Regions from separate parts of the Homo sapiens genome. Here all the other regions are reported to be linked to region 5. The links are microRNA targets in miRTarBase. Many come from high-throughput screens and were not tested one by one. Region 5 holds a microRNA gene; each other region holds the end of a gene's coding sequence.
The links. Region 5 holds the annotated microRNA hsa-miR-548ac (CAAAAACCGGCAAUUACUUUUG, at 1,630-1,651, opposite strand). A microRNA usually pairs through its seed, bases 2 to 8, with sites in the 3' UTR of a target mRNA and lowers its output. Matches are read on the target gene's strand: a 7mer-m8 pairs with bases 2 to 8, a 7mer-A1 pairs with bases 2 to 7 and ends in A, and an 8mer does both.

Region 1 (4,000 bases), not on the chromosome of region 5:
CAGACAGACACCGTGAATGCTAAAGTTCTCCTGGGGAGGTGCATCAACGTGATCCTGGCCTTCATGACTGTCATCTTAGTGTGTGTGTCCACCATCGCGAAGTTCGTCTCACCCATGATGAAGAGTCGCTGCCACATTCTTGGCACCTTCTTTGCCGTGACTCTTCTTGCTATATTTTGTAAAAACTGGGACCATATCCTGTGTGCCATAGAAAGGATGATAATACCAAGATGAAGCCACTGGTTCCTGCCTTCAAGTTCTTTCAAGTTTTTATTTTAAAGAAAACTCTGTGCATACTACCAAATTTTACAGTGAATGATTGTGCGGACTCGTGTGTAAGAAAAACTAGGACTGTGTGGTGTAAATAACTACAATTCTCTTAACTCCGTAGCAGTTGCCAACTCAGTCCTTGTACTTCGTTAACACGAATCTGTTTCAGAGCTCTCCTACCTTGCTCACTGCCTTAATCAGACCGATTTCCTGCCCACCTGACCAGCCCAGCGTGGTAAACCTCTGTATATTGAGACCTTGGCATAATTGGTGATCCTGAAGAAAGAGGTCTCTCTCCTAAGTCTCTGTCAGAATTGAGCTTCACAATTGCTAATGGTTGTTTTCTGTGAGTCCTATAAAAAGCAAGGATATGCATGATTCAGGGAATGAAGAATCACAGGCTTGGGCAGTGTTAAACACTGTGGCCTATGGTCCCCGTGTGATCCACCCTGCTTCTCTCCAGGGGACCATAGGTCCCGTCATGTACTCAGTGTCCACAGCAGTCAGTCGTGTATGACCCTGTAACGTGGAAATCTTATCACACACCTGTTATCCAACAAGTCTACCTGAGGGGTTTTGTTACACTTTAAATGGGAAGGCATAGGGATTTATGAATGGGGCTTTCACCTTCTCATACCCAGGCAACCAACACCTGATTTTGTCTCAACTGGCTAGCAAATGCCCAGCCTTCAGAGTGTGCAGGAATGTTTTCAAATCCCTCATCAGACTGTGACTTTAACATTAATTTGGAATCCTGTGAGCACTACTCTGAAGGTTTGTGTTTTGGCAAATCTTTTTTCTTTTTTGAGACAGGGCTCTGCTAAATATTGCTCAGGCTGGTTGCAAACTCCTTGCTTCAAGGGATCCTCCCACCTCAGCCTCCCAAGCAGCCGGGACTGCAGGCACAAGCCACCATGCCTGGCTGTTTTTTGGCAAATCTTGATTGTGATAAGCCCCCCTGGAGGATATGATTCACTTTATGTGATTCATCTTATTCACAGGTCTGTGAGGGACTGCAAAGCTTACTCAGGAAATGAAAACAAATGATGGTCATGTTGCAGTTTTTTCCTTGAAGGACAACCGAACCATAGCCTCTAAAGTTCAAGTGCACTGAGGTGTCGGAACGCTGAAAGCATGAGGAAACGAGGACGTAGGGTGTGACTGAATGGTGGCTAGATTAGTGGGAGCAGTTCACCTGGATGAAGATTGAGAGCATCGTCTTTGAGAAGTGAAAGACTAGCAAGAATAAAATAAATTAAGTCCAGTGTTTGAGCCAAGGTTGCCACCTGTCTCTTAACATCTCACTGAACATAAGTCCTGAGGTATTAGGACGACCATACTGCCTCTGAGCTGAAAACATTCAAAAGTTCACATCCCTGTTTGGGGGATACCATTCACCGCCTTCAGCCCAGATGATACTTTCCTTTAAATCTGTGTCTCTGTGTGTATAACAAAGAGGAAGATGGAAACAATGTTCATGGAAACTGCTGTTGAGCCCCTTGTCCCACCACTCCCGCCATCTGCTGCAGGCAGGAAGGCATGTGAGTGTACGTTTTCTTCCAGGAGACATCAGGTCCCCCTGGATTCAAATTAAGTGCAATATTTTGCAAACAGCTCTTCTTAGGGAAATCTCCTGAAGGAAAAAAATGTGACAGAATGTTCCATAGTCTGAGAGAATGGAATCGTTGAGCATTTAGTACAAGTCCAGTGTGTGTGAGCGGGACTTAGGCAGCTCAAGCTTGCTTTTTTTTTTAAGCGTACAATTGAGTGGTTTTAGTAAATTCACAAACTTGTTCAACCATCACCACTATCTAATTCCAGACTCACGCTTTTTTAAACAATAAATGTCATTTCATGAAATCTTTGGTGATAAAGTATTTTGGATTCAGAGAAGAGCTCCCTTACCAGTCCCACCCTGATCTCATGGCTGTCTCTCCTTTCATTGTCAGACTCCCCCTGGTCTACCGCGTTGATGTGTATACACTGATCTTTCAAGTCTGGGAGACAGATAAGGAGGCCAGGTGCAAGGCAGGGAGGCAGAGAGAATGTTGTGCTTCCTTTAGCTTTTGTATTTCGATGGCCAGCATTACCCTTTACCTGTGGGCATCAGACTCAGCGTGGGCTGAGTGCTGAGTGTAACTTACACTCCTAAATCAAGCTGGGGCCTGGGTGGGCCCCTCTTGGTATCTGTGAATCTTTCCAAGCACCACTTCGGACACACCAGGGATTGAGTGCTGCTGTTAGTTTAGAGAAGGAGAGATGTCTAACCCTTGAGGTGAAGGGCTCTGGGAGGGTCCAAGAAGACGTAGGCTTCATTTTCACACCAGCCCACACCATTCCAGTGCTCAGCCTAGCAAATGTGCTTTAATGCACACTTCTCAGACCTGTGATCCGTGTATCTTCTCCCCAGTGACAGAAGTAGAGAAGAGAATGGAAAGCAGCACACTCCGTCCCCTCTAGTCTGGAGCTGTTAACAGAATCTGCTAGAAACTAGCTTTATTCTAACATACCGTAGGATCTAAATCCTCCTACCTGGATCATGAATTCCTTTGAAATAATTCATATTTTCATTGACTCTCACTAAATGTCAAATAACCTTGTTTTCACTTGGATAGGCTCAACCTACCTGGCATATTTATTTTGCAGTCTTGTTGAAAGTTCATGAAACTTTGTACTTTTTAATAAGATGATACACTCGAAGGAAACTTTTAATCTCTGCAGTTTATTCTCTCTTAAGGAATAAACACTCCCACTGTTTGTTCTCTTCAATGTGTAAGGAGATTAAATGACATTTTAGAAATATTACAATTAAAAATAGTGATGTAGCTGTAACATATGCTGGAATTGGATATTTAATTTATGTTTGTGTCAACTATAATCCTTTCCCCACCCCTTTCATTTATGGTAAACATCTTGGGCAAACCCAAAGATGGAAAGTGCTTGTTGGGTGGGTAAGCACCACCTGGTCTCTCAGCAAACACTCCTGAGTGGTTGAAGATGCTGGACATTGGATTCTAGCACTGGGTTTATCTGGTGACATAGTCTCCTGTGGGTCTTGAGTTGGTTATTTCAAGCTCAAACTCTGAATATGATTAAACCAGAACACCCCACCCCCAACTGCCAAAAAAAAAAAAAAAAAATGGAAATCCATAATGAAACAGCAAAAAAGTACTCCGTTGCTGGGTTTGGACAATGAACATGGGATTAGTCCCAAGTTTGTAGCTTGGAACGGTAGCATTTTTGCCTGCGTGATCCTTGTCAGCTATTCACAGAAGGAAATCTTCCGAAACTCCGTCTTTCATTTCAGCCGGTGAGGCTGTTATCCTTCTCTGTCAATTAGCATTCATGTGGTTTTCGCTCTTTCCAGCTCTGTCACTCTTGTTTTCATTTAAATATTGCCCCACTCTGTGTTTATTGCCTTGCCATTTCTCTAGCATATCAGGTTTAATTATGGGCTCAGTAATAATGAGGAACTAGCTTCCCTCAGGCAACTAATTACTTTTGTCTTTTTTGGTCGGATTGTACCAAATTATTTTGCATTGAATGGGAATGTTTTTGCAGTGAATCCAGATATAGTTGTATTGGTTTGGAAAAACATTTAAATATATTTATTCATATGAACATGTGTGATTAAACAACCTATTTTACATATTTCTGTAATTCTGAGGAGTGGGCTGGGGGTAGGAAGAAATGGCACCACTTAAAATTCAGGGCTTATATGAAGAGGTGT
Region 2 (4,531 bases), not on the chromosome of region 5:
CAGCGTGATTTCAGTGAAATAATTTAGACCCCCCAAGCAGACTGTGCAACGGATAGCCCCTGGAGAGTGCCCCGTGTTTACATTCTCATCTGGCATTTTTGTTTTGTGGAATCGGCCTGTGTTAAGCCAGGTGACCTATGAACAGTGCTTGTCTCCTCACTAGGTCATTTGGATCATCTTTTACACTGCCATCCATTATGACTGATGGTGTACAGCTCCCAAGTGCTCCCTATCCAGTCCAAAGGACCCTCTTGATTACAGCACAGGAACTTGATCGTTGGGGAACCCCAGCCCCTTGGAACTTGGAAGACCCGTGTTTCCTGGACCGCGAATCAGTGTGTTGGGCATCAGTGTTTTCTGCAAGGGTTGTGACCTGAAACTTTTTAAAAACCACCCACCTTTGGGGAAGCATTTCTGAATTTATCCATCACCAACCATTTCTTCTTGGATACCATCAAGTAACAGCTATTATTTGCCAAGTGGAGCTGTCATTTAATTTGATGCACCTCTGGATTCAGATGAAACATTAAATTGTCTTCCTCGATTCTCCATCGGGTGTAGAGTTTTTAAACTATCAATGGCATTTCAAGTCTTCTGAAACAGCATGGCTGTATGTGCGTGGTCCATAGCACAGTACATGCAGCATCTAATAAGAGTTTCCATTGTAGAATGTTTTCACATACTTGAATAAATCAAATCTTTAATTGAGAACCTGTTGATGATACCTGATAAAGCCTTTCCCACCCCACCTGTAGCTTGGGAACCAGTAGGAGCACTGGAGGGGGTGCCTCCCACCCCATCCCTCTTTCTTCCTCTCCCTGATCCCTTAGCGGATCCAGCAGACCTCTTTCTGTTTATGGAGGCAGCAGGGAAATCAAGGGCTGGATTTGGTGTAGGCTGTGGTCTCCGTCTTGGCATTGTGGAGAGAGGGCTTAGCACCTTCTGATGCCCCTGCCCAGCACTGAGGTGCCTGGCCTCACTGCAGTGTGCTAGACTTAAGAGGTGTTATTTTTTATTCGGCCACAAGATGGCAAGGCCAGTGTGCTAGGGAATGGTAAGCCACAAAATGAAATAGAGATCTGAGAGCTAGGCTGGGTGCCGTGGCTCACACCTGTAATCCCAGCACTTTGGGAGGCCAAGGTGGGTGGATCACCTGAGGTCAGGAGTTCGACACCAGCCTGGCCAATGTGGTGAAACCCCATGTCTACTAAAAATACAAAAAAATTAGCCAGGCATGGTGGTGTACGCCTGTAATCCCAGCTATTCTGGAGGCTGAGGCAGGAGAATTGTTTGAATCCAGGAGATGGAGGTTGCAGTGAGCTGAGATCGTGCCATTGCACTCCAGCATGGGCAACAGGGCAAGACTCCGTCTCAAAAAAAAGAAAAAGAGCTGGGGCTGTTGTCCTCAATGGGGGACATTTGAGGACCTAGACTGTCCGAAGTCTTTCTCTTTGCTCTGGAGGTCACATAGAGCCTGGACCATCCAAGATCTGCTGCTACGGTAAGACATCATCTCAGCTTTCCTTTCCCTTCTAGGCCACAGTCCTACCTTCTGAGGTATGGTGGTGGTCTCAACGAGACTTGTAGATTTTCTGAAAATGACTTTCTCGTTGACTCTAGGGGTTGTTTCTACCTTGTGGGTGGGGCCTGGTTAATGGTGGGGATGTAGAATGGGGCTCAACAGGCAGGGCATCCAGATGGTACTGGAAACCCCAAACTCAAGAACTAACTAGGTCAGACCCCCCAGGAGGCTTATTCTCTTTTTGGAACCCTGGCCCTGGTCCCACCTTCTCTGCACTCGCACTAGAGGTCGCAGGTGGGATCATGGCACTGGAAGGAAGTAGGTGACTTCTAAGGGCTAAGAGAGGAAAGAGCAAGGGTACAGGTGGGACCCTAGATGCACCTCTGTGTCCCACCCTCCCTCCCTGAGTGCACAGCCTTGCCTCTGGGGTGCCCAGGAGGCTGAATTGGGGTTCTAGGTGTGCAGCCTTGGTTTCCCTTTTGGCCTCTCCTTTGGGCCTAGGCATCATCCAAAGAGACAGCCTCGTCATTCAGGCTGATGTAGAAGCTGAGGGACTCCCGGAGACCCTCACTGAGAAGAGACTCCTCCCCTGTGGCAGCTTCAGAAAACAGGAGGGAGCTGTGGACAAAGGAAGATAATTGGGTCAAGAAGCCTCTTCCTCCTCCCTGTACTCACTACACACAAAATTGCACTGTTCTCAAAACCCTTCACTCCTGCTGAGGACCTCATGGGGCTCCCCTGTTCCCTATCAGATCAGCTTCCCCAGCCCCACCTGTCGAGCCTGGGCCGTGCTCCAGGAGTTGAGTCAGTGCACTCTGGCTCCAGCTGCCAGGTGTCCCTGAGTGTGACAGGTACATTCCGGGTTGTGGCTTCCCAGGGGTGGGTCCTTCTAACTCTTGGTCCTGCTTTCATGTTTCCAGGAGTCCCCAACTTTACCTGTCCAGCTCTTTCCAGTTGAGTGGTGTCCTCTGCACAGTCACAGGTAGGGGTATATCCTTGCCAGGGAGCGGGCCAGCCCTCTGCAGGACACAGGGCTCCTTGAGTAGGCAGCAGATGTCATCCGCCAGCTCTGAGGAAGAGACCTCCATCCCTGACATGACTGACTCCACCCTACTTCTCCCCAACAGCCCTCACCCTGACAGCCCTCTGCAGTTGGCAGGAGGGGGCATGGTTACCAAAGAGTGATAGGACATGAGCCCCAAGCTATTGGTTTCATGGAGACAGATGTAGTCAAAGGTCTTTCTGGGCTAACTTTTGGGAGACAGTCACTGTATGATTTAGGGTGAGTTCATGGACCTCTTGAGCTCAAGTTTCTGGTTAGGAAATTGCTTTGGGAAGAAGAAAGCTAAGGAATGCTCAGTCTACTTCTACTCACTGTCTACTTCCACACAGAGTGACCTGCAGAAAACCCCTAATGAGTTTTCACAAGAGTGCTCTTCCCTCTCTGCCCCCTGACGCTGTGCCCAGTGACTGCATCTTCCAGTGTCTGTTGAAGGACAGGCACCAGGAAGTACTAAGGAGAGTCAGGATTGAATCCCACACAGCAGCAGCTCTGTGCCCGGTTCCTGTGGAGAGAACTCTGCCTGCTGCCAGGGGCTCTGAGTCAGAACCAGAGTGGTAGGCAAGGTACTGACCTGAGCCTACACAGGAGGTCTGTGGCTTTTCTGCCAGGGCACGAGGTGAAGACAGGGCTCCCAGCCTGCATTTCTTGGCATAGGGACTGGCGTGAAAATAGGGGAGGCCGCTCTTCTGTCTGTCTGAATACTCCACAGTAGGTAAAATATCCAAGGGCACCACTGCCTGCTCCTCCCCACAGACTATCCCAGCCTAGTCCTGGAGGCAGGGAAAGGCCATACCAGAGTAATGGTCCACCAGGGCCTGGAGTGAGGGGAAGGTGAGGCGCGGTGAGATGTACAGCCAGCCATTGTCAAGGCAGTGGATCCTGTAGTGTCTGATCCGGTCCCAGGATGCAGGGCGGCTGAGGCGGACTGACAGAGAGTAAGAGCCTGAGGAGAAAGGGGTCCAGGGGTGGCACTGAGGCCCTGCTGGGACTCGGCCCCACCTAGGCTGGGAAACGAAGATAGGCAACGTGACCATGGGGCCCCGGCAGAAGGGAAGTGTCTGGGGCAGAAGCAGGACAAAGACTTGCTCTCTTGGTCATCAATAATATGTTCATAATAGATGGGGGTCTTGTGAGGGTGAAATCAAATCACACACAGAGCCCTCAGTACAGGGTCTGGCACTGTGTGAGTGAACATTCAGCGTTGGCTGTTCTTACAAAGACTCAGGTGGCAGATATGTTAGGATGCAAAAACACTGTCAAGAAGATGCTGGCAAGGAAGTGGAGAAGTAGGACCTCCCACCCTGCTGGTGGAAGAGAAATTAGTACGAGCCACCTTGGAAACAGTTTGGCATTAACTAGATGAGCTGAACATGCACGTACCTTACAACCCAGCAGTTCTTCCCAGGCACAATACCTCAGAAGCACACAAGCAATATGCACAGCGGCATTGTTTGTAAAAGTCAAAAACGGCAAACAGCCCGTTTGTGCTCAAGAGTAGAATAAATTGTGGATTATAGAGTGTAGTGCTATACAGCAGTAAAAATTAATAACTGCTACATATAAGCATAAGGAAATCTTGGAAATTAAGCAGAAAAACATTACAGAGCATACATTCAGCCTGATTCTATTTAAAGTTCAAAGATAGCCAACATGACATTATATGTTGCACAGGCACACACGGCAAAGCTCTGAAGAAAAGCAACTGAATGATTAACACAGTGAAGCATGAGAGGGGGCTACAAAGGGCTTGTTAGGTAATTTCAGCTGGCAAGTGGGCGCGTGGATGTCAGTTTTATTAGTGCTGCTCAACCTACATGTATACATTACATACACTGATGAATGACAGTTTCACCAGCTTTGCATGTTTCATTTTTTCATTTTTTTTTTTTATTTTAATTTTCTTTTTTTTTTTTTTTGGAGACAGAGTCTCCCTCTGTTGCCCAGGC
Region 3 (4,000 bases), not on the chromosome of region 5:
AGAAACTAGAAATACCAAGGAAGGGGCTTACTTAAAGCAGTATAAATAAATAGAGGCCTCAGTGTTCCTCTTCCATGGCCATGTGTAGTTTCCTTACCCATTCACTGTATCTGTTAATTTCTGAACTGGCTGAATCAGAGTTACTGAGGCTTTGGGACCCTGTTTATTTGTACACTTACCCATATCCTCACTCTCAGCAAGGCAAGAGAGGTCTCATGTGAATTCAGATTGTGACAGTGAATTCCCTAACTCCAAATTTGGTTGAGTTTGAAAATTTTGCACTAGGGGTTACTTCTGCAACTAGCTAATGCTAAGCACTGTTATTACAGGAAGGCAGCTCAAAGAATGTCATCTAAAGTTCAGCAGCAGGAATACAACACTAATGACCCTCCACGTTGGTTTGGCTATGATAGGGAAGGAAACCCTGTTACAGAGCTTGACAACATAACATCATCTAAAGGAGCCTTAGAATTAACAGTGAAAAAGTCAACATACAGCAGTGAAGACCAAGCAGCGTGACCTTCAGCCTCAAGCAGGAAGAACAAAAAATCAAGAACTTGGCAAGTTTTCTCCATTTGTTGCAAGTATGTTTACTAGCTGAATCTCAATAACAATGTAAACAAGCAACAAACCATCTTCTGATTCTTATTCCAACTACAAATATTTCCAAACACATCAGTAGTTCTTCTGTCTAAATAATCATGATTTAAAAAAGAAGCCAGGCCAGGAGCGGTGGCTCACACCTGTAATCCTAGCACTTTGGTAGGCCAAGGCGGGTGGACCATAAGTCAGGAGTTCAAGACCAGCCTGGCCAACATGGTGAAACCCCATCTTTACTAAAAATACAAAAATTAGCCGGGTGTGGTGGTGGGCGCCTGTAATCCCAGCTACTCAGGAGGCTGAGGCAGGGGACTTGCTTGAACCTGAGAGGCGGAGGTTGCAGTGAGCCTAGATCACGTCACTGCATTCCAGCCTCGGCGACAGAGCAAGACTCCGTCTCAAAAAAAAAAAAAAAAAAAAGAAGCCAAATCAAGTACTGACTACACAAAATTTCTGCCTAAATTTAATCAAACCAATAGTTTTGATGAGATTATAAAATCTACAGTTATATGAAACAACCCTGAGAGATGAGACTTTTTTGACAAGAAATTAAGAAATTTTTCTTTAGAAAGGAAAAAGAAAGCAGAGATGGCCATATGTCAAACTAAGAGTTTGAGCCAGGGGAATAACTTTAAGGATCTGTAACGCTTTTTAAGGCTTTATAAAGAATACAGACATATATTAATATTTTCAAAGGAAATGTGGCTTTTCTGTGGTTTCCAGACATTTAACAACAAAAGAGAACTAAATGCCGCCAATTAACTCTGTACTTATCTCAACATTTGACTTAGTCAGGGGCAAATTAAATAGAAACAAGAACTATCTGAATAGAAAGAATGTCCCTGCAATGTCTCAGAAAGACATCTCTTTAATCAAATTTGCACAACGGAGGAATTCTTAAACTATGCTATGCCAAAAAAGATGCTCCCTCAATTTTATGCTAGGAAGTATGGGTTATTAATTGCATATCTACATATTAGTTTTTAATAAGCTTTAATCCGTAGGTTTTAGTATATGTGCTGCCGAAGTGAGCACATCTGTGGGTTTTTACCATTATTTGATATTATGTAACACTGATGTTGACACAGTCCAAGAGAAAACACAACTCTGTTCTGACTGCCGCAAACAAGCCTTGTCAGCAATATCAGATCAGCCTTTTAACCTTTCTATTTCCTCAATTACTTATCTCTCACGTGGAGTTAATTCTCTTTTTGTATCCCACAAGTTTCAAATAAGGATTAAAAACTTAAGATAAAGCATCGTTATTTTGAAAAGTTTTAAAAAGATTGTACAAAGTATTATTATAGGCTACCTTGTATTAGCTAAATGCTTTTAGTAATTCTCCCCCACTGAGGTTGACTTGCAAAGTTTTTGAAATAAGGTAATATTACTTAGCTGTGGAAAGGTTCCTAGGAGTGGGCACACAGGCAACAGAATCATTTGAGTGGGAAGTTTTAGACCATAGCCAAGAGACATAAGATGACATAAGAGTATGATTTTAACCTAAATTTGGAAATTTCTGGCAGCTGCATTAAAGATGTTTTCAAAAATCTGATCCCTAAGTGCTTCATGCACACAACTGGTGGAACTTATAAAAGAGGCAATTGCTTTCTAAAGGAATGACACCTGCACTGGTTAGACCCCGGTAAGAAACACACCCTGTTATGTTCTCCAGAAACCTAGCAGGTTGCTTTACATTCAGAGCTTGCTCCAAAGCTCTTTGAGTAACATCCTTTCTTAAACAAGAACAGAAGACACATTCATTCATTCTGGGGAGACAAATTTTACAGCTACATAAATGAAGAAAAGGAGTAGAAAAAGTGAGCTATGAAAGGAGACCAAGAATAGGGATACAGGTAGAGAAATCTTTTAAGTTTTCGATGCAAACTACTCAAAATATCAAAGATATTAGTTAGGTCTTTAGCCCTTACGTATTTCATATTCATAGGTCTGTGTCCAAGAGAGTAAATTATGGCAGCTTTTTCTTTTTGTCTGGGACTTAACAATGTGATCCAAATATGTACAATTCCATTAGTAGCTTTAAATATAGTTGACTGCTGTTATGCTTATGACTTTTCTGGCTGTGGTTAGCTAATTTATTTTTAGTCATGAAAATGTTTATGTAATTGCATGAGGGTGAAAAAAGATTATCAAAACTGCCTCACTGCTACACAGTTTCCTCTACTTAATAGTATAACACACCACAACCATACCAAATATACCAATGTGTGAGTATCTTTCAGACTTGTATACATTCTGATTTCATGAAGGGTGAACTAAAAGGAGACTCTGAGATATCCTACAAAGCTGACTTTTGTTTCATAAATAAGAAGTTAAAAACAGAACTCTAAAGAAATGGAAAATTAATGAAAAGGAGGCTGGGCACAGTGGTTCATGCCTATAATCACAGCACTTTGGGAGGCCAAGGCAGAAGGACAACTGGAGGCCAGGAGTTCGAGACCTGATGAACATAGTAAAACCCATCTCTATAAAAAATTTAAAAATTAGAGCATGGTGGCACCTGCCTGTAATCCCAGCAACTCAGGAGGCTGAGGCAGGAGGATGCCTGAGGCCAGGAGTTTAAGGCTTCAATGAGCTATGATCATGCCACTGCACTCCAGCCTGGGCAACAGAGTGAGACCTCGTCTGAAAAAAAGAAAAAGATCATCATAAATAATAATATTTGGAAAGGTTTATTAAAAATTAGTGTTTAAGAATGGACTTCTCCTGGCCCGGTGCAGTGGCTCACACCTGTAATCCCAGCACTTTGGGAGGCTGAGGCAGGCAGATCACATGAGGCCAGGAGTTCAAGACCAGCCTGGCCAACATGGTGAAACCCATCTCTAGTAAAAATACAAAACTTAGCTGGGCATGGTGGCGTGCACCTGTAATGCTAGCTACTGTGGTGGCTGAGGCATGGGAATCGCTTGAACCTCGGAGGCAGAGGTTGCGGTGAGCCAAGATTGTGCCACTGCACTCCAGCCTGAGTGGCAGAGCAAGACCCTGTCTCAAAAAACAAACAAAAAAAGAACTGACTTATCTTAATCATAAAAAATATAATCCAAGCGATTTAGGCCATTCTTGTTTTGCTATAAAGGAATACCTGAAGCTGGGTGATTTCTAAAGAAAAGAGGTTTAATTGACTCACGAGGTTTAATTGGTTCTGCAGGCTGTGAAAGCATCGCACGGGCCTCTCTGCTTGGCTTCTGGGGAGGCCTTAGGGAGCTTTTACTCATGGCAGAAGGCAAAGTGGGAGCAGGCACATCACATGGCAAGAGCAGGAGCAAGAGAGAGACGGGGAAGATACCCACACTTTTAAACAGTCAGATCTTGCAAGAACTCACTATCATGAGGACAGAACCAAGAAGGTGGTGGTAACAATTAATGAGAAATCTGCCCA
Region 4 (4,628 bases), not on the chromosome of region 5:
GCATGACCTCGGCTCACTGCAACCTCCGCCTCTGGGGTTTGAGCGATTCTCCTGCCTCAGCCTCCAAAGTAGCTGGGGTTACAGTCATGTGCCACCACACCCAGCTAAATTTTGTATTTTTACTAGAGATGGGGTTTCACCACATTGGCCTGGCTGGTTTCGAACTCCTGACCTTAGCTGATCCGCCTGCCTTGGCCTCCCAAAGTGCTGGGATTACAGGAGTGAGCCACTGCGCCCAGCCTCCCCCTTTATTATATCAATTTCTATGACACACATTACTGTACTTGTAGAAAAATTTGGCCACTGAATTCACCAATGTACCCAGATGTCTTATGAAATAAGTTTTTCTTACTGTTTAAGACACATTTAATTAGATTTTCTGCTTCTTGCAGCTTATTGCATATTGATACAATGCTCTTTATCAAAACAAAACTCAACTCTAAACTCTGAAGAATGTACAAATTCCAGTGAGTTCTTGATGACTATAAAGACCCTGTTATTCTCACACAGGGTGGAGGCAGGAATTTCGCAAACTACACAAATAGCTGTAGTTTTACCAGCACCACCCTAATAATTTTGCTTCACACTTTCCCAATCATTGAACAGTTCCTAAGATAATGTGCCTATTTTGTTTTTAGCATTGTTAGCCACATCTAGAAATGTGACAAGGAGTCTAAATTGCTTCTTTGGAAGTATTTAAAGCCATTTGTAAGTCTTCCTCTGTGGTTCCCTAAAAATGTTGTTTAAATGTGTATTCTAACTTTCCAACAAGAGGGACAGTTTATGGATGGGAAATGGATTTGTTTCTTTTCTATCCTAGATATATCTAAAATCTAGTATTCTATATAGGCACTCAACAAGATTGTGCAGCCAACTCCCACAACTACAGAGACAGCTTTTCATTTAAACATCACACTTCTGTAATAAACACTTACAAAGGTAAGAACGTTTTAATTAAATGGATTTATTTAAAAAGACTATAAAATCTGACATCAAGAGAGATAAAAAAAAAAGACCCATAAGATTTAAATTGACAAATATAAAATGATTGGCTACAATGTAAAAATACATTTCCCAGCCCCCAAACAAAACACAAGTATAGTAATTATAAAATTTTTGTACTGTGAGTTCATTTCTCTTATAATTCTTGAGAACCATTCTAAGCAATCTATTTGTATAAAATATAAAATTTATCATAACTGTTAATTTAAAAATTATTTTAAATTTGAGTTTATTGAATTTGCCATTTTTTTGTACATAACAGTGGTTTCTGGTCCCAAGTTCCCCTTGAACTTATTTACTACAATGGTCTTTTTACTCCTATTTATTTCCTTCTACAATAGAAAAGAAAGGCTAACCATTCATGGGTCCCATAAAAAACAATGTGAAGGAAGGTTCTAAGAGTGACCAAATATACCAGTGAACATACTATCTTTCTGAAAAAGAAAGAATTAAGTGACCAACTAAGAGATCCACTTTTGCACCAATGAAACACATGGAGGTGAAACCTCAGAACAAGCGGAGCTTAAGCTCAATGACAGTATGTTTTATATGACAGGCCAGCTGAGAATGTATCTGTCAATCCTGACTAAGCCCAATACATGGGTGGTGACCCTGAGGTAGCCCAGATGATATGCTCTGAATTTTAGATAGGTCTAAATCACAATGGTACAGTCTGATGTGAAACTTTAGTCTACCTACCATAAACTCGTTTTCTGAATCAGTCCTTATTCATAATTAGACCCAAAACCCAGCTATTTCTCCTCTCTTAGATGACATGCCCAATAAAAACAGCATCCATGATTGGTTTCATTATCTCCCAATTAAGTAGTGGTGACACCACCACTAACACTAGTATCCAAACTCTGATACAAATCCTAAAGGTATTGAGTCAGTAAGACAGAGCAGAAGCTATGTTGGGCCATACTGACCAATTTCTGAGAACCACATTAGCCACATTCATGCAATTAAAACCCATCTAAGACACACAAATGGCAGATGAGAAAAAAAAAAAAGGATGAGGTCATTAAACTTTATCACTGGAAACATGATTCCACTGTTTCAAATAGGAAACCTACCCTGGGAGACTTCCACCAAAGTGCAGAAGGACCTGATGCACGGGCTCATCATCTTAACACTAGAGTCCCAAGTCAAAACTCTAGGAGGAGGATAAGAAAGGTCTAGTCTGTGAATCACCTGGACAGAAAGGTCATATCCCAAGTGCCCTGCCTATCTGTGACAGCTGCTAGCCAACAGACAATTCTGGTTATGAAGTTATCTCTTGAGAATGGCTTGATTCTCTTATGCCACCAACAGTATTAGTCTGGGCAGGGTTCCCTGGATATTTACTTTTTTTTTTTTTTTTTTTTGCCAAAGACAAACTAGAGCAATGCCTATGTAAGAACAAGGACTCTCAAGATCCTGCTACACAGTATTCACAATCAAAAGGGCCCAAGATTCAGGACCACCTAAAGACAACTGACAAAAAGTGTCAGAGCCAGAGGCCAACCTCTGCTAGATGAAGCAGCAGCACATGACTCCATTTCTATCTGATAAGGAGACAGAGAAGAGGCATCTCGAACAGATGAAAAACCAAAGGCTGGTGTCCTAAAAAAAACAGATTGGCTTCAAAGAAAACACTAAGGAAGACCCACAGAGCTGTATTAATTTTAGTAAAAATAATCATATGCCAACAGGGGAATTGAACCACTTTCTAAATCATAGTATGAACTCATCTCTTCAGATACTTGGTAAGTGGTCAAAGCTTGTTTTTATAATTACTTTCACTGTCTTGGGCAAAAAGTCTTTCTTATCTTTGGTCCTTAGGTGTGGTATCAGTTTCTTCCATTTTTTTATGTGTTACAAAACAATCTTTTTTTTACTTGACATCAACAACCAAGGTGCAGTATAAACACGAAGTTGCTGATATTGTTGCTTTTATACACATAAAATACCAACATCTCCCATACATTTTATAGGCTATACGAAGGTCTCAAAGAATTAATAACCGTTATCCAAAAATATTATAACATTTAAGGCTGAGTGAAATACAGTAAAGCCTGGTAATATATGTTAAGGAAAAAAACCTAGACCAACATTTTAAATATTGGTTTCTTAAATATGTTAAATTCCCATTAACAGAACATAATCTAAGCATCAAAACAAACAGCTAAGCAAATTAATTTAAAAATAAAACAATTTCTAAGTAGATGAATATAATCACGATGTTTATACAGCTATAAAGCATAATTTGGAAGCTAAGCCTAGTAAAAGAATGACCTGTAACAGAATGACAGAATCATTTATCAACCGTTGAGCTGTGTGATTTAAAAACAATTGTTTTCTCCTCCTCCCACCAAAATCTCCATTTGAGATAAGTTTCAATTATTATTTAAAAAAAAATTTTTTTTAACTTATCTGGCCTACTTTGTGGTGACTGACACAATATTGATAAAACTGCCTTCTTGACCTTCCCCTTGCTCTCCAAAAGAAGTGGTTTAAACAATTAACAAATTTTACAAGAGCTTCTGCCAGGGCTCAGGCACCACAATGCAGGGTCACTACCTTAGGTAACATCTGCTCCCCAGAGTCTTTAGGCATTAAGTGGCTCAGTGAGGGCTTCAGCCCTAGTGGTATTTTCAGGTTTTCTCAGCTGGGACTCCTGTCGTTTTTCATACAGCATAGTGATAAAGTCAAGTAGGAACATAAAACTTGCTATAAATCCAAACACCTGAGGAAAAAAAGGAGGAAAGGTTATATGAGAATTTTGGAATATAATCTTACATTTCCTACTTGGCTTGGAGAATGTTTCATATAAACAAGATGTTCATGAATTTTATCTTATACACGACTACTCTTTAATGGTAAAAAAAATTTTTTTAAGTCATCAAAAAATGGAAAGAAGTTATAAAAGAAAAACTTCCAGAATAATGGCTATTAGTCAAAGTCTCACAAAATATTAATGTTCTGCCTTATGTGTGCATGTTTATATGTGGAGGGCTAATATATGAAAGTAGGGTTAACAGATAAACATTAAATCCTATAAAATGATACAAAACAAAAATATTTGCATGGTTAGATTGACCCACAGATGCGATAAGGAAAATACGTGACTAGGCAACTCAGCCTAGGTGAAAATGAAAAAAGTTATTAATATCAAAACAGAAATTCCATTTTGAAGATACTATTAGGTTAAATTACTTAAATAATGTTCCAGTTGTCACACTGCAATGACACAGTGACATGACGCCACTACCTACTTCCTCTTCCTTAAATCACTTCCTCAACTGTTCTCTTCTAAAATACGATCATACGTTCTGAGAATTCTATCAAGAGACAGAAGACCATGCGTCTGCTTCAAATTTAGCTTCTCCACTAGCAAAACCCTTAAGGATATGGGGGCCAGATAAGTTCTCTGTAAAAAAGAGAAAATTGATGTAGGTGATGGCTAAAGTCTCTTCCAAATCTAAACTCCCTATCTCCACGATTTTTATTAATAACATTCTCTTACAGTCTGTTGCAGTCTCCTGACCTCTCCTCCCCCCTCTAAAGAATAAGCATTCCACCTCATTTTACCACAAAGTAAACTGAGCTCCAAATTCATTAAGTCCCCCAGATATCCCCAACAT
Region 5 (4,628 bases):
GGCACATTTTCAGTTGATGCCTACTTGCAGTATCAGGATGTGTGGCAATCTGGGAAGCAACATCTCTATCTACACACCCATATATGCATTTATAGTATTGAGGAGCGGCCAATCTCCTAAAATGTCTAGGCTAGTAATTGTATCAAATAACCTGTCCTATTAAGGCCATAAATATTCTCATATTAGTCAGTCCCAATTTTGGGGGTAGAAAATGTGCTTACCAGGCATGGAGATAATAAAGAGGAGTAGCACTGTTTGTTTTAACTCAATCAAGTTTCATACAGTTGTGACTCTTGCCTAGCTCTTAGCAAGTCCAATCCAAGGAGCCCTAGGCCAGCTCAGCCTCAGTAATAATATTTAACAGTAGCAGCAGCACGAAGATTCACTGCAGGCTTACTATGTGACAAGCACTTGTTCCAAGAGCTGTTTGTGTATTAACTCATTTAATCCTCAACTCAACTCTGAGGTAGTTCTTATTATTCATTTATTTGTTCATCAAATGTTCATGGAGTCCTGCCTATGTGCCAGACACTGAAATAAGCAGGCAGGATATAGCAATGAACAAAACAGACAAAATCCCAGCCCTCTTGGAGTCTATTTTTCAGTGGAGGGAAGAACATAATAAATGAAAAAGTAAATATCTTTTATTTGGATGATGTTGGATGATGTTAAGTGCTATAGAGAAAAATAAAGCAGAGTGTGGGGGCTGAGGAGTACTGGTAAGGAAAGGAGTTGGATGGCATGGGGGGCAGTCATAAGTTGGCATCTGAGCAGAGTCCAGAAAAGCAGGGGAGCGAGCCTAAGAACATCTGGGGTGAGAGTGAGAAAGGAGTTATTTCTTGAGAACACGCCTATCAAAGTAAGGTGGTTTGCTCCGCTGGACACTTGGTTGATAGAGAAGGTCAAAGATTCCGAAGCACCAGGCTACAGATGAAGAAATGGACTGAGAGGGTCAGCTGACTGCATTCACTCAGCTAGCAAGGGGCAGAGCTGGTGTCCAGACACAGGCAGTCGGCCCCAGAGCCTGCACTGTTGGCCAGAACATCAGATGCCTTGGTTGGGGCCATTCCTCTTTTTTCCTGATCGATTCCACCCTTAGCCGGTCCCAGTTAGTGACTTCTCTTATTTCCTTAAGACAGAGATTTACTGATTTCAGCCACACCACCACCAGTTTCCCTGCCCTCATCTACTTCATACTGAAACTGCAGCCACCTGTCTCCCAACGGTTACAAACCCTCGGTCCCCAAGGCCAGAGCAAGGTTCCCGGACCTTGCTCTCAGCTGTCAATCTGCCTCCTCGATAAGTTCATCAAGAATTAAGATGTTGGTTCTCTAAATCAACTTCTTTCTGTACTTTCCTTCTAATATGATGCTAAAATAGTTTCCTTTTTAATTCTTGTTCTTGCACTTAACCTATTTCTTCTTTCTCAAGATGTTTCCCTTTAGACCTATGCAATCCATCAAAGTAGCTACCAGCTACAAGTGGCTAGTGAGAACCTGAAATATGGTTAGTTCAAATGGAGATGTGTTCTGAGTATCAAATACACACCAGAATCTGAAGACCTGGTATTAAAAAGTGGAACATAAAATCTCTTGTTAATATTTTTTTGTAGTAACTACTAGGTTAGTGCAAAAGTAATTGCCGGTTTTTGCCATTAAAAAAAAATAGCAAAAACCACAATAACTTTTGCACCAACCTAATACATGTCGAAATGAAAATATTATGGATATATTAGGTTAACTAAAATATATTATTAAAATTAATTTCACATGTTCCATATTATACTTCTATTTGAGAGCACTTCTTTAGCCTGTTGTTTCAAGACACTCACATCCCACCTTTCTCAAAGGCCACATTTGTCTTTGACTGTTCTCACCTTAGATAGGATACAGCTGAGATCCACAGTATGCTTTAGGGAATAAGGTTCTTACTAGATCGGTTAAGGCTGTGAGTGTTTTTAAATCTATTCTCCAAAGTCTGATTCAAGGTATTTCAATACAGTACTGATCATTTCACTAAAATTCCTTGAGAATCCTTGTTATTTTCTAGATACTCAGTTCATCGTTGGGAAACTCTATTGCAAGTAGTTTACAATGGCACAGCCTCATTAGTTTCTTATTAATCTGATTTTTTATTTTTTTCTGAATGTGTATGTTAAACTTCAATTTTCTTCTAATTTTTAACTGGCATAGGAAGAAAATGTTCAAGAAACTACAGACTGGTCAGCCCAGTGGAAATTCAGGCACTAATCTCAACAGACATTTTGGGGAACATTGTAAAGTAAGCAAAGTTCACTAGAACCTATAAAGTAACCAAAAAGCATTTTCCTTGGAGGCTGATGGGCAGGCACTGAAAGTTATCTCCAAAGAGGAACTGCTAAAATGTTTTCCCCTCCTTTTCTAGGGACAGTCTCTGTATCTTATAGTCACACTTTATATTCAAACCTGAACTTATCTGAGAAAAGAGAAACGGCTGCATCCTGGTTTCACTTACAACCCTGAGATGGAAGTTGAGATTTGTCATTGCAGAATTTAAGGGTCTGTGTCCTTAAGTAAAACCTTCTGGTCACCCCTCAAGTAAAGCTTCAAAAAAGCTTAGGCACTTGTGCAGAAACAGCATGAGAAGAAACCAAAAGGCAGAAAACTTACACATATAAGGGCTGATTTATGCAAAGTTTCTACTTTTAAACAGAGAAACCAATACCTACCCTCAAAGCCTGTATTTACTAAAGAAATGTTAGAGTGACAAGGAGGTCAATAAAATAAATTATTCAAATCTGGTTCTTAAAAAGAGGTTCTAAGACTATTTTAAAACTTCTGAAAGATGCCCATCAAAATTAAAACAAAAAAACATAGCAACGAATACAATGAGTGAAACTTGATTAGATCCGGGTTTTTTAACAAAAGACACTCTTGTGACAAGTGGGGAAATCTGAATACGGGTAAAAGTTAGGTGATGTTACAGGATTAGTGTTAATATTTATAGATGTTATGATGTTATTGAGATTATGCAAAAGTGTCTAGGAGTGAAATGTGGGTACCTAGAGAATGTAAATATAATAATGTTAATAATAAATATGTCAATAAATTGCCATTGTAAATTCTATGTCCCAAAGAAGCACCCCTCACCATTACAAATTATGATATTAAATACAATTTTGCATGACTGGTAATTGTGCTGACCTATATTTCCCATGTTTTAGCAGAATTTCATTGGACAATGTATACATGTTGGATATAAGAAATCAGTAGTACTCATCTTCAAAAAGTTGCTTAGTGGATCTCAGGCTAGGGATACAACAGAGCATATAAAGGAATAGGTTCTGATTCAGAGAGAATCAAAGTTCAAGTTCACTCTGCCACTTATTTGCTGTGTGAACTTGGACACATTACTGAACCTACCTAAGCTTTGTTCTCCTATTAAATGTTCCCTATGTAATAAAATCAGTGTGACAATTAAATAAAAACATCTCAAATCTGAAGCATAGCTCCTGGCACAGAGCAGGTACTTACCTCCTAGTGGCTATTATTACTTACACTCTGTTATAACACTGGGCCTAGTTTTCCTATAGGAACACACAACACTATTTTAACTTGGATTATCTTTGCTAAATAAAAAAACACAGACTGTCTAAGTCTCAACTCCAGCAAAGCACATGAACAAGTCTCACATAATAATGTGAGATAATTTCAAATGGAGAAATGCTGGACAAATACATTGTCATCTAATGTTCAGATTCAACAATCTTTACTATTAAAAAAAAACAGATCAATATAAGGAAAATTTTAAAAAATAATACATGACTTCTGCATACAAGGAACTTAAAATCTAGTTATGCAGATAGTTGGCAATAAAGGATCTGTAAAATGTCAACAACAGCAGAATAAGACAGACTCTGTTAATAATAAAATAGTTCCTACCTTTTTATTTTTTATTTTTTTGCTCTGTTACCCAGGCTGGAATGCAGTTGTGTCATCATGGCTCACTGCAGCCTCAAATTCCCAGACTCAAGCAATTGCCAGGCTCATCTCAGCCTCCTGAGTAGCTGGGACTACAGGCGTGCACCACCACACCTGGCTAACTTTTTGTAGAGATGGGGTGTATTAGTCCATTCTCGCACTGCTAATAATGACATACATGAGACTGGGTAATTTATCAAGGAAAGAGGCTCAATGGACTCACAGTTCCACATGGCCAGGGAAACCTCACAATCATGGCAGAAGGCAAAGGAGAAGCAAAGTCATGTCTTAATGGTGGCAGGCAAGAGAGAGCGTGTGCAGGGGAACTCCCCTTTATGAAACCATCAGATCTTGTGAGACTTATTCACTATCACAAGAACAGTATAGAGGAAACTGCCCTCATGATTCAATTATCTCCACCTGGCCCTGCCCTTGACACACGGGGATTATTACAATTCAAGGTGAGATTTGGGTGGGGACACAGCCAAACCATATCATTCCACCCCGGCCCCTCCCAAATCTCATGTCCTCACATTTCAAAACACAATAATGCCCTTCCAACAGTCCCTCAAAATCTTAACTTATTCCAGCATTAATCCAAAAGTCTAAATCCAAAGTCTCATCGGAGATAAGGCAAGTACCTTCCACCTATGAGCCTGTAAAATCAAA
Region 6 (4,628 bases), not on the chromosome of region 5:
CCCAAACCAGGGACAAAAGACATTCTTTCAGGATACAGGACTCTTTAAGGAGGAATTGGAAAAAGTGCAAGACTGATGGCCAGACCTATTAGGGCAGGGAGGAAAAATTGATTACTGTCCCATGAACAGATTGGACTTTTAGGTCCAATGATCCTTGAGGATACTGAAGTGAAAACCTCCACTATCTCCTCTACATCCTAAACCTAGGTCGATTCAGAGGACCAAACTACAGGGCCCCTTGAGAAGAGTGGAGACACCTGAACAGCCGGGACTGGAATGATTAACTAGCAACTCAGTGAAATAACACTTCCCTTGTTCCTAGGACAAACACAGCACGAAGAACACTTTCCTCCAGCTGTGTTCACTGAGTCACTAAAGGCCTAAGACAATTATCACAGGAAGTTTGGAAAGCCTCAATTCTATATAAAACAGATGTAGGTATCCAAAACTTTTTCATTGAATGAAGTGTCACATTCATCCTGATTTGCTGTTTGGTGATACCATCACTCGTCCCATCTCCCTTAACAGCCTCCTTGGAGGCAGCAACCATGTCTTAAATCAACTTTTCATGCCCCTTAGTGCCTAATAGTGCGTGGCACATTGTTGGTCCTCAGTGGGCATCTCATAAATCTAGTTGAACACAAATGGGCAAGGGACCCAGCTTAAAGCCCCTTTCAACTAAGGAAATTGGGTCCTAGAGCATGAGAAGAAATGTTTTAAACCCATCTTCTCTTTTGGGTAGGACAGGGACCTAAACCTGTGGCCACTGCCTCCATCCTAGCTTCCTGGGCCTTACCTGAGCTGCTTGGGAGGGTGCACCTACCAAGGGCAGTCAGTCTGGTGCCCTTCCACCCTCCAACCAGCCTGATACTGGTCCCTCCCTCTCTCTCCAACCCAATACTGAGATGTGCGCACCTGAAAAGAAAGTACTTGAAAAATTCCTCTATTATCAGAGCAAACTGATGAAGCTTCTGAGGTATTAAACAATCCATCATAACATTTGTGACCAGTTAACTTTAATTTTCAAAATAAATCTGCAGTATTTTGCATGTTAGTAATACAGTGCTGGTATTGACAGGTAAAATCATCATCTGCTTACATAGAAACCTTCATTCAGGAGCACACCGTAGGAGGGGAACGGATACACAATAAAAAGCAAACGCAGGCCAAGCAGCGAGCCCTAGAGCGTAACAGGCTGGATGTCAGATTTAAGGATTATCTAATACAACTGTTTAGCTGCCAATCTGATAAAGGGGAAGCTCTCAACCAGGTTACAACCAGAAGGGAAAAACGTACTCTGCCTTTTCGTAGAGCAGTGGCTGTCGTGCCTTCAACACCTGGTTGAATCAGTTCATCAACATCGAAACTCAATTCCAGTTCCAAGACACAGAATTTCATCACACAACCTATTCGGTACCCCTTTTCAGTGGCCCACCCAAAACCCCCTCCTGCCATCGACTCTCTCCCTCCCAAAAGAAGACATGACGTGGCTTTATTATTGCAGACAAGCTTCTTAAGTGAATAAAGAATGCATACAAAATAGTATTTTAACTGAAGTCATACAATGAAGTCTCACTCCTGTTTATTATACAATGAATTGATAAAACAATTACTTCTAGTATATATCTTTTTTTTTTTAGAACTAATACTTTCAGGGTTCTGACAACCACATTCTAGCTTAGGGGTAGGGCCCACACCTGCCCCCACTGAGGACTGCTCCTTGGACCACTGTGGAGGAAGCCTGGGCTGTCTGAATTGTGAATTATGACTGCCAGCCCACCAGAGATAACAGATCCCAGCAGGCAGAGCCAGAACCCAGTTTTGGGTCTGCATGCCAGGAAATGTGAACTTCCTCCAAATGTGGCCACTGTGCCTCCCAATCCAGGCCTCAGCAAGGTCATTCTTGGGCTTTCCCTACACGAGTCCTTCCAGTAGTCCACACATAATGCTCTACATATTAAAAACAAACCATTTTTGTACTGTGGATAAGAACAGTTGTAACAAAGTCATAGCTACATATTTTTCTCTACATTTTGTTTATTGAGACAAACTAATTAAAAGGCACAAACATAGGGCATGTTTACATGGACATTATAACAAACATATACATTAAAAGTGTAGGAATGTGTTGCCTTCCTGCTAAACAGAAAGTTCCTAAGCTTTTATATATACAAAAGTTGTACAATTTAATGTCCTAAAGTACAAAAGATCATTTATAAAATTATTTTACACTAAGTACTATTTATTTTATTTTTTTACTATGTAGTTCAACCCCCTAGAACTGTTTTGTATAATGACACACAGATACCTGTCCCTGATGTAGGAAGTCTGTCTCAGATGCAAGGTATTTTGATGCTTGAACTGACACAGTAGGGTATAAATGGAAATCATCCAGTTTGATAGTCAGTCCTGCAAACATTCTGCAAGATTAACACAACTAATTTCCATTTCTCTTAACTGCAATGATTAAAAAATGAAAAAAACCAAAAACATATTGCAACTTAAAAAATCACAGCATCTTGGTTTAGTTAATTTTTTTTTTAACGCAATGCTTTAAAAACAATGCGTGGCATGATGGTGTAAAGAGTATCTGTTTCCCTAGCTTTTGGTTTCTACTTTATGTACAGAGATAAAATATCTTGCTAAGAAATAAAAAGCACATGTCTCAACGTGCATAATCATTGCTGGGTTTCTACAGGGAATGCAGACAGCTGTCTCCCTGAAAACACCACAAAGCTGATACAAGTGTTTTCTCAAAGAAAAAAAAAGTGATGTCCATATTTACAAAGTTGAACAAATCTGCGCAATACTTAAGAAACGGAAGGAGAAATTTAAAAAAAGATACACTCTGCATGTTCTGAAGGGGCATACACTACCTAGTTAGTGGTTAGAATAAAAACTGTATACAATTTAATATAAGACATAAACTCTAGTGAGCAACTAACACATCTGTCCCTGTTGTAATATCAACAGGCTCTGATTGGGAGAGAGAGGGGCATATCACATCCCAGTGCCTCCAGCGTCTTCCAATTTAAAGCAATATATTTGTACTGTTCCAAAGTACTCCTTGGCTCCTAAATAGGAATCCCACTGGACTCTGTTTATTAGGAGCTTGCCTGTCCACACACTTGACTTCTCCTCTGTCAGTTGAGGCTTTTCTTAGCAAAACACAATTTGTAGATTTTTTTTAAATTTTTTTTTTTTTTAAAAAGTCAACTACAATGCTATATTCCATCGGGATTAATATGCTGAGCAATATTTACATCTCCAAATATCAGGTCACAATCCCTATTATACGTTGAAGTTAGAATGATAAATTATCATATGCTTTGCATATCAGAGCTGGTATCACCTTTCCCATAGGGAATGCTGCCTGAAATTAACATATTCCCAAAGGTAAAATGCATATTCTCTGAAATGCATTTTATTATGACAATGCATGTATTTACTCATAAAAACAATAAACACAGACAATTCTACACTAGCTCTCAATCTGTGGATTTAAAATTTCAGGTTAAAATCAGCCATCCACCTTGTATAGGGAGAAGAGTTCTGCTAGTGTTTACAATAAAGTGATTCCTTGGGATTAGAAATAGTAATGCTGTTTTTTTATTTTGAAGTGGGTTCTACTTATGATTGGTTTTAATTCTGGCATTTCATCTTGCCAACTACTATCCTGTTTAAGCAATGTTGTCAGCTAAAAGGAATTTCTGATTAAACTAAAGTGGTCCAGTGATAAGTTACATACACACCCTACTTTGAATAATCCCAGCCAAATTGGAGAAAAATGCTACCACACTCTTATTAACTAATGTAATAAAATCTCCCAATTTCATGGTTTACTTTTTGCTTTAATCAACTAAAAGTTAAGTTGCTGGTAAATATTTACTTTTACCCATATTTTGATTTTATAATACTGTTTACCAAGGCGGTGATGTAGGCAAAGCTTGGGGCAAGAAAGGCATGCTCTCTACAGGTCTCATTGCTATATTGAGAGGGGCGGCTAATGTCATAGGTGTGGGTAGATTCATTGGAGATGTGATGGTGACAGGGTGTGCTATATTCACTGGGGCAGTGACGGGGGTGGGGAGGTTGACTGGGGTAGTGAGTGTTAAAGGAGAGGTCATGGATAATGGACTGGTTATAGTTACAGGATGCCCTATGTTCATTGGGCTGGTTATGTTAACTGCACTTGAAACATTTACTGGACTTCTCATGCTCATTGCAGCTGCCACTGTGACTGGGTTTGACATAGTCCCAGACGACACAGAGGATGTTATACTGAATGGAGTAGTGAGAGTCACAGGTGTCGTAGCAGCCGTGGAGGTTTGGCACAGGTTAGCAGCTTCTAAAATAAGAAGAAAAAGGGTCTTTAGATTCTCAAAACAGTGAGCAAAATTCACAAAGTTTCTGAATCAATTTCTTTTCATTAAAAATGTCAAACATTTAATAAATCAAATTCCAGTTTTCTATCAAGCGGTCAACAGAACAGAGGATCTTTCTGAGCACAAGCCTGGGGGCCAGGGATCCCAGTGTATGAATCACCTTCTGATGCTATACCTCCTGCAAGGACTTAAGCAACTTGTTTAGCCTTGCACTTTAGGTTTCAAGTTCAGATTTACTTACCT
Region 7 (4,544 bases), not on the chromosome of region 5:
TTGTCGTGCGTGGTTTGCTTTATTATTTTTATTTATTTTTTGAGACAGCATCTTGCTTTGTTGCCCAGGCTGGAGTTCGGTGGCACAATCTTGACTCACTGCAACCTCCACCTCCCGGGTTCAAGTGAGTCTCCTGCTTCAACCTCCCGAGGAGCTGGGATTACAGGCGCCCACCGCCACGCCCGGCTCATTTTTGTTATTTTTAGTAGAGACGACAGGGTTTCACCATGTTGCCCAGGCTGGTCTCAAACTCCCGACCTCAAGTGATCCACCCACCTCGGCCTCCCAAGGTGCTGGGATGACAGGCGTGAGCCACCACCGGTTTGCTTTATTTTCAGTCTTCCCTTTAAACCTGAATCACTTAGTTGCCACAGGTAGAGTTTGAGTCCCAGTTAGGGTGGACTCTTAGTGCTGCAATTGGCTACACATGTGACCCTGGCTAAGCTCTCTGACTTCTTGGAGCCCGTTTTCTCATCTGTAAAATAGAGATACGGAGCATGAACCATGTCATATTCCTGAGAGGATTAAATGATGTCATAAGATGTATGTGTGGTTCCGGGCAGCCCCTCGGGAAAGGAGCAGCTCCTTCACAACCAGGACCGAAGGCAGGAAGCACAGCCTGTGCCTCCCTTTCTTCCTCCACAGAGCTTTGCCCAAAGTGGATTTCTCCTGAGCACTCACTGGCTGGTGGATAGAGAAGCTGCAATTGCAGAAAGACTAGGATTTTAATTTCAAAATGAACATGCTTTTGATTTTCTTTTTGTTGCAGAAACTGGAAGAGAAGTTCCGGCTGAACAGGCGAGAACTGATTGCCTTTGAATTCCCGGTGTTAGTGGCCTTGGAATTCGCCCTCCACTTGCCCGAGCACGAAGTCATGCCCCACTACAGACGGCTGGTCCAGAGTTCCTAGCACTGGCCCCGAGGACAGCCAAGGGCCATTTCTTCTCAGCTTGGTGGAGCAGCACTTACTTACTACTGGAAATGAAAAAAAGTAGAACTCAGAATACCAGACTTTTCTTCCTCTCGACATAGTTTGGGGAGAAGCAGTACTAGAAACTTTCCAAGGAGTCTTGGGTGTGTAGCCAAGAGGAGCCATGAGCTATGGACTCCTCAAGCACGGGAAGAGGAGGTGTGTGCTGAGAACAGAGAGGCCCTGCCCTCTGTCCACTAGCGAGAATCCCTAGCTGCCCCAGCCCAGTCTTTCTCCCCGGCATTCACAAACTTTGCAAGCGTGGTCCAGGGCCTTCTCCAGATCTGTTCCAACTTGGAGTGTGAAGGGCTTGAGCATACGGGGGAAGAGAGTCTGCAGAAGTTGGGGGAAAACTTTTAAAAGATACCCTCATTGTGTCAAAGAGTGTGCCAATCTATTTTTGTATCAGCATTGGAAGTGCACTTTCCCCTGGGGCGTGTGGGTGTGTGAATGTGCAAGTGTCTGAGAGATACTGCATCAGCCCTAGACCCCCAGAGCCAGTCCCGCCCTTTACAGAGCAGCCCTTAGCCTGGGGCCATGGGTCAGGCTGACCTTCAACAATTATTTCTAGATGATTTCTGGATAAGAATTGCTCTCTCGGTACCAGACAGTTTGACATCCTCCACCCTTAGAAAATGACTGACATTGTTTTGTTACTGCTCCTACCCACCAAGGGGATAAAGAAGGCGAGTTCTGAGTGTTGGATGAGTCAGTCGCGTGGAAGGACGTGGAGCGTGGCGCTCTGTAACTTCCTGCCGTCTGCCACCCCGCCACGTGTATTTAACCCTCGCACTTTCTCCACTGTGGAGATGGCTGGGGCGGCGCCCCACAGTGTGTATTCCTGTCCTCTATGTTAGAGTGCATCAGAAGCACATTTACTGTGCTATCTATATCGCTATATAAAAGTGTTTTATAAAAACCCAGAATAGGAGCACGACGCATGATTGGTGTTTGAGGCGTTTGCCAGCTGGGACAAACTGCGTTTGGAGCTGTGGTTAAGCTGACTAAGGAGGCGGTGGCTCTTTCTTAACATTCCCACGTGCCCAGGGCTGTTCATGCAAGATTTTAATGGTGACTTGTCCTGGCTTACTGGGACAGTCTGTATGAGGCATGTCACCACACTGTCGCCTCATAGCTGCAAGAGAGAGGCACCAGCTGAAGTTCCCCTGACTGAAGAGAGCCTGTGGCCATGTAAAAAGAGAATTAAACTCTTGTTGCTTTTTGTATACCTGTATGCGTTTGTGTAGACGTGTGTCTCACCAGTCACCTTTGCCCTGCATTGCTGATCCCCTTGCGCACACTGATTCTAGTGAGGTCACAGATTCGGAGCTTCACACACCAGCCCAGAGAAAGGGCGATGGAACCGAACCGAGGGTCTGCAGCTTTCGTTAGCAGAGCTGTCAGATTCTTGACAGTCTTGGAGGATGGAGAAATTCAAGCAGCAGCTGGTGAGGGCCAAAACAGAATACTTGGCTTCTTCAGAATCTTAGATTGCACTGAGTTTAGTCCTAAATATTTTGCTAACAAATTTCCTTGGCCAGAATCAGTTGTAAGACAGTGATTTGGGTGGTGGGGGGAGGGAGGAGGGAGAGGATATGATTAATGTGGTCTCTTTGGCTGATCGAAAGCTAGATCAACTGGTACTTAGGGCACTTGCTGTTTATAAAGCAAAATTGAGAAAATATTCAAGGTGCCTCCATCGCCTGAACTACAAAATGCCCTTGGCCTTCCTCACATGGGGTCTGTCACCTTGCATCTCTGATAAGCCATCCACCTTCCTGGTCAGTGCCTACAGGGGGAGAGCCTTTCTGAGAAGCAGGTCCTGTGGTATCTGAGAATGGTCTAGAGAGCTCCCCACTGCCCATCTGCCCCCGAATTTCCTGCCAAGCTCTGGGGAGTGGGGTGGGGGGAGGGACGTCCGATGGATGACAGGCCGCCAGCCCAGACGTGGGGAGAGAAGCCTGAGTCCTTTCCTGTGTGATAAAATCAGGCTAATTTACTTGGATTTGGGGTGATTTGTTTGGTTTTTAGCATTTATGAGGTGAGCCCATGAAGTTAGTGGTCCATTACTTTTTAAAGATGCATTTTCATTTTAAACTGTCTCCTGGCCTGTGGATTTGTGGAATGGACAGTTTTGTGGGTTTTAATTTATTTGTGAGGAGTCGGGGCTGAGAAGGCATTTTATCAGGAGGTCTCCTTTTGCACGTCCATGACATGAGCTTTTCGGAGGCAAAGGAAGTGGAGGAGGGTGAGAGATGCAGGTCACTGCCAGAGGCACCTCTGTGACACGGAACATTCCAGACACGTCGCAGCCTTGGGCTTCGGCGAGGAGGAAGTCTGAGCCTGTGAAGCGAGAAGGCCAGGCAGTAGACTGGCTCTGAGGTTTTGCCCTTTGACCTCCTCCACAGAGGGCAGCTTCAGCCCCTTGTAAGCCCTGCCCCCTCTCAGGACTGCCCTGAGGCCTCTCCAGTCCTCCCCACACTCAGAGATCTGTGGGGAAGCTCCGCCCAGCCACACTCCTTGGGATAATACTAGCCGGTTCTGCCTGATTCCTTTTCCCCCGGAGCCAGCCTAGGGGGCCCGGGACTCCTCTAGTGAGCCTTGACTGTTAGGTAAGAGACAGGAAGCAGACAAGCCAAGAGGTTGCTGCAGCTGCCCCCAGGAGGAAACGGGCAGCAGGGAGTGTGGCCCAGCCCCCACTGTACCCCTCCAGGGGCCCGAGCCCTTGCCAGCCCAATGACACCTTGAAGTCACCACTTTTCCTTTCTTGCCCGCTAATAAAACCTATTTAAACAGGAAATTCATACCAAATGCAAATGGGTTTTGTTTTCCTTGGCATTTTGTTGTTCCGATCACAGATTTCCCTGCCAGGGTGTCTGTGGTTATCAGCTGCAGGCTCAGCTTGGGGCGGCCGCTTCACACAAGCCACTCTGTACCACGTGCCCTACCTTAGTGACGGGAGTAAGGAGCTTCCTTCCCCTCCATGTCATTCCTTCCTGTTCCCTTCATTCCCCAACAGCAAATAAAACTGTTGAATGCTCTGGCTGCTGAGTTCTTTATCTCTCACTCAGACGTTTCCGGCTTAGTGCTGAACAGCTGGCCCCTTGCCCTCCCCAGCCCTGGCTGCCTCCCGTGACTCCTGAGAGCCTGAAGCCTTTCTGCCCTGCTGCAAGCTTAAGTGGGTGGGGTGGGGGGAGGCTGGAGAATGAAGTGCATTTGAGCCAGGTGGTTTTGTTACCTGTTCAGCAACAAAAGACATCTTTCAAATCAAGGGGGATTTTTGGGGTTGGGGATGGGGGCGCGCCCTGACGTCACCTCCCCGGGGCTGTTGGCACAGTTGGGTAAGCACAGTGCTGAGGGCCAGCAAGAGCAGGGAGTAAACTGAGTGTAAATCTGGAATCACATCACCAACACCAATGTCAATAAAAAGCAGCTTCCAGTCATGCAGCTGCAAAGCAAAGCTGAGATTCAAAGCTGGAAAAGAAGAAAAATGGCAGGTGAAGGGGAAAGGTCCTCTTGCCACCTGCACACAGCCCAGCGGAAGGGACCCAGGCCAGGATGGGAAGGGGTGCTA

Region 1: the mRNA of TMCC3 is a reported target of hsa-miR-548ac. Seed matches in the 3' UTR shown: 7mer-A1 at 267-273.
Region 2: the mRNA of RAB5IF is a reported target of hsa-miR-548ac. Seed matches in the 3' UTR shown: 7mer-A1 at 563-569.
Region 3: miRTarBase lists FBXL13 as a target of hsa-miR-548ac. Seed matches in the 3' UTR shown: 7mer-A1 at 1,580-1,586 and 8mer at 1,643-1,650.
Region 4: the mRNA of CMTM6 is a reported target of hsa-miR-548ac. Seed matches in the 3' UTR shown: 7mer-A1 at 3,328-3,334, 7mer-m8 at 3,081-3,087, 7mer-m8 at 2,588-2,594 and 7mer-A1 at 1,786-1,792.
Region 6: the mRNA of VEZF1 is a reported target of hsa-miR-548ac. Seed matches in the 3' UTR shown: 7mer-A1 at 3,453-3,459, 7mer-A1 at 2,894-2,900, 7mer-A1 at 2,555-2,561, 7mer-m8 at 2,479-2,485 and 7mer-A1 at 1,959-1,965.
Region 7: the mRNA of CABLES1 is a reported target of hsa-miR-548ac. Seed matches in the 3' UTR shown: 8mer at 2,993-3,000.

The regions. Positions count from the first base shown.
Region 1 is chr12:94,567,669-94,571,668 of GRCh38, reverse strand. It overlaps TMCC3 (transmembrane and coiled-coil domain family 3), which reads left to right. Exons shown (of 4, transcript NM_020698.4): 4 at 1-4,000. The coding sequence ends at 234. MIR7844 (microRNA 7844) reads left to right here and starts at 317; the gene lies at 317-438.
Region 2 is chr20:36,611,847-36,616,377 of GRCh38, forward strand. It overlaps RAB5IF (RAB5 interacting factor), which reads left to right. Exons shown (of 4, transcript NM_018840.5): 4 at 164-711. The coding sequence ends at 205. TGIF2-RAB5IF (TGIF2-RAB5IF readthrough) reads left to right here. Exons shown (of 5, transcript NM_001199535.2): 5 at 164-711. The coding sequence ends at 205. SLA2 (Src like adaptor 2) reads right to left here. Exons shown (of 8, transcript NM_032214.4): 6 at 3,379-3,528; 7 at 2,459-2,591; 8 at 472-2,140. The coding sequence ends at 2,020. Among named protein-coding and RNA genes, the nearest start is that of RAB5IF, 8.3 kb to the left of the region's middle.
Region 3 is chr7:102,809,861-102,813,860 of GRCh38, reverse strand. It overlaps FBXL13 (F-box and leucine rich repeat protein 13), which reads left to right. Exons shown (of 21, transcript NM_001394494.2): 21 at 330-2,672. The coding sequence ends at 519. It also overlaps a transcript of FAM185A not described here. Among named protein-coding and RNA genes, the nearest start is that of FAM185A, 63 kb to the right of the region's middle.
Region 4 is chr3:32,480,368-32,484,995 of GRCh38, forward strand. It overlaps CMTM6 (CKLF like MARVEL transmembrane domain containing 6), which reads right to left. Exons shown (of 4, transcript NM_017801.3): 4 at 945-3,730. The coding sequence ends at 3,593. Among named protein-coding and RNA genes, the nearest start is that of CMTM6, 20 kb to the right of the region's middle.
Region 5 is chr1:116,558,409-116,563,036 of GRCh38, forward strand. MIR548AC (microRNA 548ac) reads right to left here and starts at 1,703; the gene lies at 1,616-1,703. All of the region lies in intron 1 of CD58 (CD58 molecule), which reads right to left. It overlaps LOC105378925 (a long non-coding RNA gene), which reads left to right. Exons shown (of 3, transcript XR_947739.2): 3 at 1-2,779. RefSeq lists enhancers at 170-219, 1,271-1,510, 4,110-4,259.
Region 6 is chr17:57,970,553-57,975,180 of GRCh38, forward strand. VEZF1 (vascular endothelial zinc finger 1) reads right to left here. Exons shown (of 6, transcript NM_007146.3): 6 at 1,000-4,348. The coding sequence ends at 3,921. Among named protein-coding and RNA genes, the nearest start is that of VEZF1, 15 kb to the right of the region's middle.
Region 7 is chr18:23,256,458-23,261,001 of GRCh38, forward strand. It overlaps CABLES1 (Cdk5 and Abl enzyme substrate 1), which reads left to right. Exons shown (of 10, transcript NM_001100619.3): 10 at 770-4,013. The coding sequence ends at 910. It also overlaps a transcript of SLC35D4 not described here. Among named protein-coding and RNA genes, the nearest start is that of CABLES1, 120 kb to the left of the region's middle. RefSeq lists enhancers at 2,842-3,505, 3,136-3,185.